2 linked regions of the Homo sapiens genome follow. Changing the gene in region 2 together with the main gene of any one other region gives a genetic interaction. Each region holds a gene or a part of one and is shown on either strand. Other genes may lie near its edges.

Region 1 (3,919 bases), on a different chromosome or scaffold from region 2:
TATGTATAATGAAGTTTGAGAACACTGTGTTAGACTACCTAAGAACTAAGAAAATGGTAAATGATAGCTATACTATTTTTCCTTCTTTTCTTATACTAGCAATTAAATACCTAGCAAAAAATATTTATTAGAGCAATATACCATTTTCATTTCACAGAACTACCTAACAGCTCTTTAAAGTTCAATATAATGGAATTTTACTCGTATATCCAGTTTCAAGAAAACCCACCCCATGACAAAACTTATTACAACACAATTTCTAACAACTTTAAAACAATTTTGTAGTTTACCTTGTATTGATCATTGGGACCCAGTTTGTTCCAGGGCTCTGGGTTATTTCTGTCCCAACTAAAAGAAATAAAACATTACGACTGTTATAATAATAAAGCACTATTTAGTGTTTTGTACTAAGAATACATTTTTGAACAGATCAATCTTATTTTCTATTAGATGAGGTATGGTGTTATTTCATTATGAAGTTGAAACAGGTAGAGGATCTATAATAAGCAATCTCATGTAATCAATTAGAAAAAAGGTAGAACACAGAATCCCTATCACAAGATACTTTTTATCTGGCTTTCACAAAACCTTTCCATTTAATTAATAAAGTGATATACAGAAAAGTGCATAGAATAATGATGAATCAATCTTTTGATTGTCTATTGTTTTTCAACTGCAAATGTGCAAGTGAAGGCAAAAAACATTTACATGTGCCGAGAACCATGATTATTTTATAAAAACAATTATTTTTATGTCAATCCTCAAAACATTACAAGATTTGGTATTAGCAGTTCTACTTTACCAAAGAGAAAACGAGACTCAGAGAAATTAGATAATTTCATGAACCAAAAAAAGTAAATGAAAACAGCAGATTTGAGATCTGAACTTATTGTATGACTGTAAATGTAACATTCTTTCTACTACCCTAATGTTATCGCCCTACAGAGACTGTGGCTCCTAAACTGCCTTGATCAGCTATCAAAGTTTTAAACATTTTTAAGTACTTACCAAACATCTGGATTGAACAATGCCAGACGCAAGAGATACAGTGTTGCTCCAGTAGCTCCAGTTCCAATAAATACAAAGAGGGGGATCAACTAAACCAAACACAAAATAGAATAACCATCTTCAAATACTTAAAACACTGGCCAACGAGAGATTACAGTAGTTTCTGCACATTGATTTCCAAGTCTCAAACTGTTATTGGACTGTTTTGTCTTAAAATTTAAATAAAGTAGATCTTACATTGAGGTAAGATTTCTTATAACTGTGTTCTAAAGAAAGAAATGGAATTTGGAAAGGATGTTAAGATGACTCTGGTTTAAGTGTCTTACTTTTTAATGTGGAGCAAATTATAGGTACATTTTTAAATTTCCAAGAAAATGTATCGAGTCTTCTTCACCTCTCTAATATTTACATGTCATTCCCATTAAATTTTCTGGCTTCCTTTATCCTGGGGCTTGAAAAACAAATTCTTTGCAAATTATTTAAGGGTGCCTCTATAAAGATGTATGAAAAATAGAATCTGAATAAGTAAACGTATCTATTACAAATACTGGCTTTAAGCATTATCTCTGAAAACGTAATGCTACCAATGCTTGCTGCGTATTTAGGGAACCGGATTTAAGACAGATTAAAGATTGCATAGACTTTTAGCTCTACAGCACATTGATGTGCTGAGGAAAAATGAGATGCCAAAGAACTTAACTGCAATTTCCACACTTCGAAATTTTCCCAAAAGCAACGACGTCCAGACAAAGTGAGGATTCCAAGATCACGGACCCCTCTTATTTACCAAAAGGCCTGGTGGTGCAATGCGGCGAATACAAGAACCTCCAGAGATGGTATAACACATAGGGAACCTGACCTATGCTAGTCTCTGACCCACACAGCGCACATCTATCCCTCCTGGACCGCACAACCTGCAAAAGAGAGCGGCCACCAGACTGTTCCAATATTCACTAACTAGAAAAAACTAGGTTTTTTTTCCGAGCAGTGTCCGTCTCCTTCCTCCTGTCAGACAAAACCCCACAATGCATGGCGTAGAGGGTCACAGAGGCCTGGGACAACTAAGATGACAAACACTAGGCGAGGCAGGGTCTGGTCTGACGGACGGTAAGTGGCTGTAAATGAGGACGTTCCCAGGGAACAGAAAGAGGCGCACCCCGACGCAAGAAGGACAAGGGAAAACATTAGGAGAGCGGTCACGAACTTACGCTCGGATGCTTCTTGGCCTGACCGATGATCTGGCGGAGCATGTTTGCGGCAGAGGTCTCCGACTGGAAAGGAGAGAACCGACCTAGCCACCAGGCCCTAAGCTAAAAATTATCTGCAATGAGACACTACGGACTTCCAAAGTCACCCAGGACCTCCTACCTGAAGGACCCTTGGCTGGGAGGGCAGCTTGCGGCAGGAGGGCCCGGATGCGACTGTCTTTAATAGTGCCTGCTTAGATCTAACCCCTCATATGTTCGTCCTGACCTGGTCGGACCATCATCATTCCACTTCATAGTGAAATGCCTTCATTGCCGTGCCATGCATATTTCTGAGGGGAATTTTTTTGGTCGAAACGAGGACTCTTCGATTGACCAGACAGGCACTTTCCAAGGGTGCCACGTACTGAGGAATGCGGTCGGAGCGTGGGCGCACGGGCCGCGCGCTCCGTGAGTAGGGGGCCTCTCCCGCGGCGCCTGAGAGCCGGGTCCGCGCGCAGAGGCCCTGGGGGCGCGCGTGCCGGGTGCGCGCTGGCCAGCTGTGACTGCCGCTGAGGGAGCTGCGCGGCGCCTCTGGGAGCCGAGCGCCGGGCGCCTGGAGGGCAGGTCGGGCCTCTTGCCGCTAAGGTCAGCGGCTGCGGTTTGAGAAGACTGCAGCTGCTTCCTGTGTTACGCTGTCGCAGACAAGCAGAAGTTAAAAACTAGTAAATGACTTAAAGGTGATAATAGTCCTGGCAGTGTATTTCTGAACCCTCAGATCCTGGCCCTCGGTTGAAAGTTCGTCGCCACAAAGACCTTTCCAACACGCCACTATCCCCCGTCCCTGGTCCCAAATTGCATCTTTAAAATGTGTTTTCAATGGTCGTGTAGCTACAGATAATCTTTCCCACTACCCCAGTCGAATTTTCATTTGTCTTTTGTTTTGTTTTCTTCGTTGTTTTTTTTACCCGAAGGACTTCCATAGGACAGGCTTTGCGGGGGAGGGTGGGGGGATTGGGATAAAATGTACACTCTGAACCCTCTCCAATCTCATACGTAGCTTAAAGCATTAATCAAATGATCAAGCAAGTATTAATAATTGGGACTAGAAATCATAGGAGAAGGCTCCACCGGAAGTTACACTAGCTCTGAAGGAGGAGCGGACATTAACCAGGTGAAAACGGAGGATGCAGGTGTACAGGGCGGAGGTAATAACACGTGAAGGTCTGAAGCTATTGAAAACCCGAGGGAGCTGTATGAGGTCTAGTGTGGCTGGAAAGTAAAAGGGAGAGCAAGGTGGGGATCAGATCTGCTGGGCCAATAACCGCTTAAACATCATGGGTTTTATGTTGAGAGCTTGGGAAGGTTGTGTTTTTAAATGATTGCTTTGTGAATAATTGATTAGAAGGGATAAGCGTGAGAGGGGAAAGACCTATCAAGGGGCCATTGCAATAGTCCATAATCTGTGTGACAGATAATGGTAGCTTGAACTAGTGTAGAGAATGTAATGATGAGAAAAAAAGATTCCAGAGATGTTTAGAAGGTGGCACCAACAGGACTTGGTGGTTGGCTCTCCAGGAGTGAGGAGAGAGAAGTTAAGAATAATTTCAGAGGTTCAGTTTTGAGCAGCTCTGTGGTTGTTGATGCCAGTTATTGAAATAAGCCGTAGAGAATGATGTATAAGTGCCTATGTAAAATTCAAGTGGATCTCTATGGGGCAGAAGAGA
Region 2 (3,819 bases):
GGTTCTAGAGTAAGACAAACTTGGTCCTGGCTTAGGGTCTGATATGGTTAAGCTTTATGTCCCCACCCAAATCTCTCGAGTTGTAATCCCCAGATGTTGAGGGAGAGACCTGGTGGGAGGTAATCAGATCATGGGGGCAGATCCCCCCATGCTGTACTCGTGATAGCGAGTGAGTTCTCACGAGATCTGATGGTTTGATAAGTGTTGGGCAGCTCTTCTTTGGCTTGCTCTTCTCTCTCCTGCTACCACTTGAAGAAGGTTCTTTCTTCCCTTTCACCTTCTGCCATGATTGTAAGTTTCCTGAGGCCTCCCCAGCCATGTGAAACTGTGAGTCAATTAAACCTCCTTTGTCTACAAATTACCCAGTCTCGGGTAGTATCTTTATAGTAGTATGAAAACGGACTAATACAGGGTCTCTGCATTTGCTCTTCCCTCTGTCCATGATGCTTTTCCTCTAAGATATCTGCATGGCTTCACTTTTCATCAGGTCCATGCTCAAAGGCCATCTCCTGTCAGAAGCTCTGACCACCAATTAAAAATAATACTGTAGTCACTCTCCAGTCCCTTACCATGAATTATTTTTCAAGATAGCATTTACTATGATCTGACATTATAATACATACTTATTTTTGTGTGTGTTCATTCATCATCTCCTTCCCTGGAGTGCAAACTTCATTAGGGAATGAGCCTTCACTGTCCTGCTCATGACTGAATCCCCTGCATTTAAAATAGTATCAGGCTCCTAGTGTGTCTCAAAAGTGTATGCTAAAATCATGGAGAGTCAACCATCCTTAATTTCCTACCATGTGCTGGACACTGGGCTGAGTGTTTTATTTGTGGATCATACCTAACTCTCACACCCACATTTTGAGGTAAGTACTTTCCCTATGAGAAAAACGAGGCTCAGGTAACATTAATGACTTTCTCAAGCTGGCATGGTTGGTCCTATGTAGGGGAGCTGTCTGCCCAGCAGGGTAATGCCTTCAGACCCTGAATGCTGAGAAGATTATGAAGCCACAACTAAAAGTGATACCAGTGTGTAAGCTACAGTCAAGGACATTTAATCAAGTTCTGATTTTACTCACTATGACTGTTTTGTTTTTGGTTTTTGTTGTAATTTTTTCTGGAAATACCCCATTTAAAAAAAATTGTATGCCCCTTGCTTTGCTGGTGCCCAAAACACATTCTAGTTTTTTGTTTGTTTGTTTGTTTGTTTGTTTGTTTTGAGACAAGATCTTTCTCTGTCATCCAGGCTGGAGTGCAGTGGGGCGATCATAACTCACTGCAGCCTTGAACTCCCATGCTGAAGTGATCCTTCCACTGCCTCAGCCTCCTGAGTAGCTGGGACCACAGGCACATGCCACAATGCCTGGCTAATTTTTAAATCTTGTGTAGAGACACAGTGTTGCTATGTTGCCGAGGTTGGTCTCAAACTCCCAGTCTCAAGGGATCCTCCCAGGTCAGCCTCCCAAAGCACCATGTAATCCCAAACACATTCTGAATCTGCTTATTGGAAGCCACAGCCCTGGACTTGAGCCCCTCTATTAAGCTCCCTCTCCTGGATTGTTTGATAGGATATCAGGTATCTGCCGCATTAAGGAGACCTTTGAGAGACACTGAAGACTCAGCAGAAGGAATACACCATTCCTCTTTCTGGAAGCCTACCAAGTCCTTTTCTTTCCCCCAAGAAATTTAAGAGCTGGGCAAACTAGACCCTCAGAAGGAAAATTCTTGCCTCTCCTCCACTTCCCACCCCCTTTTAATCCCCTCTGACCCCAGCGCTGACCTCTCAGGAAAGTCAGGTCTCTCTCAGGGTGAGTTCTGACCAGTCTTCCCTTCTTGAATTTGCTTCCGAAGTGGGTTATGGAAACAAAGGCCCCCAGTGCAGAGAAGCCAGCGTGGTGAGGGGTGAACTCGAACCAGGTCTCTGCAGAGGAAATACAACGGCAAGTGAGTCCCAGCACAGAACCAGGAATGTAGCAGGTATGCAGGAAAAAGAAATCTATTAATGAGGAATTACAACCATGACAGGAGAATGTTAGAGATGGACTGTGTGGTATCAGAAACCACTGGGGATCTCATCCTCAGACCTGAGTCTACGCTGCTGGTGGCAGCTCATAACTTCCACAGCAGCCTGTTTCCAATATTTTCCAGAGCTTGAACCCTCAGCCCTGCCTCTCTCTTCCATCTCATTGTGGCTGCAACTCCATGGAATCCTGGAGTGCAAGGGAAGAGTGTAGCCACACGATTGCATGGAGGATTGTCTGTGGGCATAAATCTAATGCATGATTCCAATGTGAGTCATTAGAATATTCCAGGGAAGAAAATGACATGATCAGATTTTCATCCTGGAAACTTCCATCAGGTAGCCAGGGAAGGAGGTGGACAGCTTGGGATGGGCGGGCCAGTGAGGAACTAATTACAAGAGTCTCCCAGGAGACTGGGAGACCTGGTCTGGGGATGATGTAGAAGAGCACAAAGGATGAAAATGAGGAGGGGGTGATTTCTAGGTCTGGGAATGACTGAATTTGTGGGGCTTATGGAAAGGACGGAGTCAGCTGTATCTGCTCTGGTGAGAAAACAGCACAAGGATCCACACCGAGGAGAGAGATAAAACATTCATGGCCGGGCGTGGTGGCTCACGTCTGTAATCCCAGCACTTTGGGAGGCGGAGGTGAGTGGATCACCTAAGGTCAGGAGTTCGAGACCAGCCTGATTAACATGGTGACACCCCATCCCTACTAAAAATACAAAAATTAGCCAGGCGTGGTGGTGCATGCCTATAATCCCAGCTACTTGGGAGGCTGAGGCAGGAGAATCACTTGAACCTGGGAGGCAGAGGTTGCAGTGAGCCGAGATCGTGCCATTACACTCCAGCCTGGGCAACAAGAGCAAAACTCTGTCTCAAACAAACAAACAGACAAACACCATTCACACTGGGGGCTTCTGAGCCTTGAGATGCCAGGAGACGCCCAACCACAGGTAACTGGTAACATTGCCTGATGTATCGTGAGAACTTACCAGGACACAGTTGCTGAACAAGTGAGTGCATTTTATGCTTAGGAAATAGGGTAAGGAGGTCTGGATCTCAGGAGAGAGATGAGCTCAAAAGAGAAACTGGAATGTCTGGAGAGCTGCCAGCATTTGGGTGATAATCGGACCTATGGAGAAGGAAGACATCTAAAAAGTGAGAGATGGCCGGGTGCGGTGGCTCATGCCTGTAATCCCAGCACTTTGGGAGGCCGAGGCGGGTGGATCACCTGAGGTCAGGAGTTCGAGACCAGCCTGACCAACAGGGAGAAACCACGTCTCTACTAAAAATACAAAATTCGCTGGGCGTGATGGCGCATGCCTGTAATCCCAGCTACTCGGGAGGCTGGGGCAGGAGAATCGCTTGAACCTGGGAGGCGGAGGTTGTGGTGAGCCGAGATCGTGCCATTGCACTCTAACCTGGGCAACAAGAGAGAAACTCCGTCTCAAAAAAAAAAAAAAAAGTGAGAGACAGCCCCACCCACCCACCCCGCCATCCTTCAAACATCCCTTATTACAGTTTTCTTTACTTTTTTCTTTTTTCTTTTTTTTTTTTTTTTTTTGAGACGGAGTCTTGCTCTGTCGCCCAGGCTGGAGTGCTGTGGCGCGATCTCAGCTCACTGCAACCTCCGCCTCCCGGGTTCACGCCATTCTCCTGCCTCAGCCTCCCGAGCAGCTGGGACTACAGGCGCCCGCCGCCACGCCCAGCTAATTTTTTGTATTTTTAGTAGAGACGGGGTTTCACTGTGTTAGTCAGGATGGTCTTGATCTCCTGACCTCGTGATCCAC

What was found.
Region 1: changes in PLA2G4C (region 2) and COXFA4 together harm fitness less than expected from each alone (positive genetic interaction), as found in Homo sapiens cells (one large-scale study listed by BioGRID).

What each region holds. Positions count from the first base shown.
Region 1 is NC_000007.14:10,937,800-10,941,718, forward strand, and holds the start of COXFA4 (cytochrome c oxidase subunit NDUFA4), read right to left. Parts: upstream 2,355-3,919; 5' UTR 2,259-2,354; coding exon 2,217-2,258; intron 1,098-2,216; coding exon 1,009-1,097; intron 349-1,008; coding exon 291-348; intron 1-290. UniProt on the Homo sapiens protein: Component of the cytochrome c oxidase, the last enzyme in the mitochondrial electron transport chain which drives oxidative phosphorylation.
Region 2 is NC_000019.10:48,093,678-48,097,496, forward strand, and holds part of PLA2G4C (cytosolic phospholipase A2 gamma isoform 1 precursor), read right to left. Parts: intron 3,246-3,819; exon of another isoform or gene 3,053-3,245; coding exon of another isoform or gene 3,022-3,052; intron 1,928-3,021; coding exon 1,787-1,927; intron 1-1,786. UniProt on the Homo sapiens protein: Calcium-independent phospholipase, lysophospholipase and O-acyltransferase involved in phospholipid remodeling with implications in endoplasmic reticulum membrane homeostasis and lipid droplet biogenesis.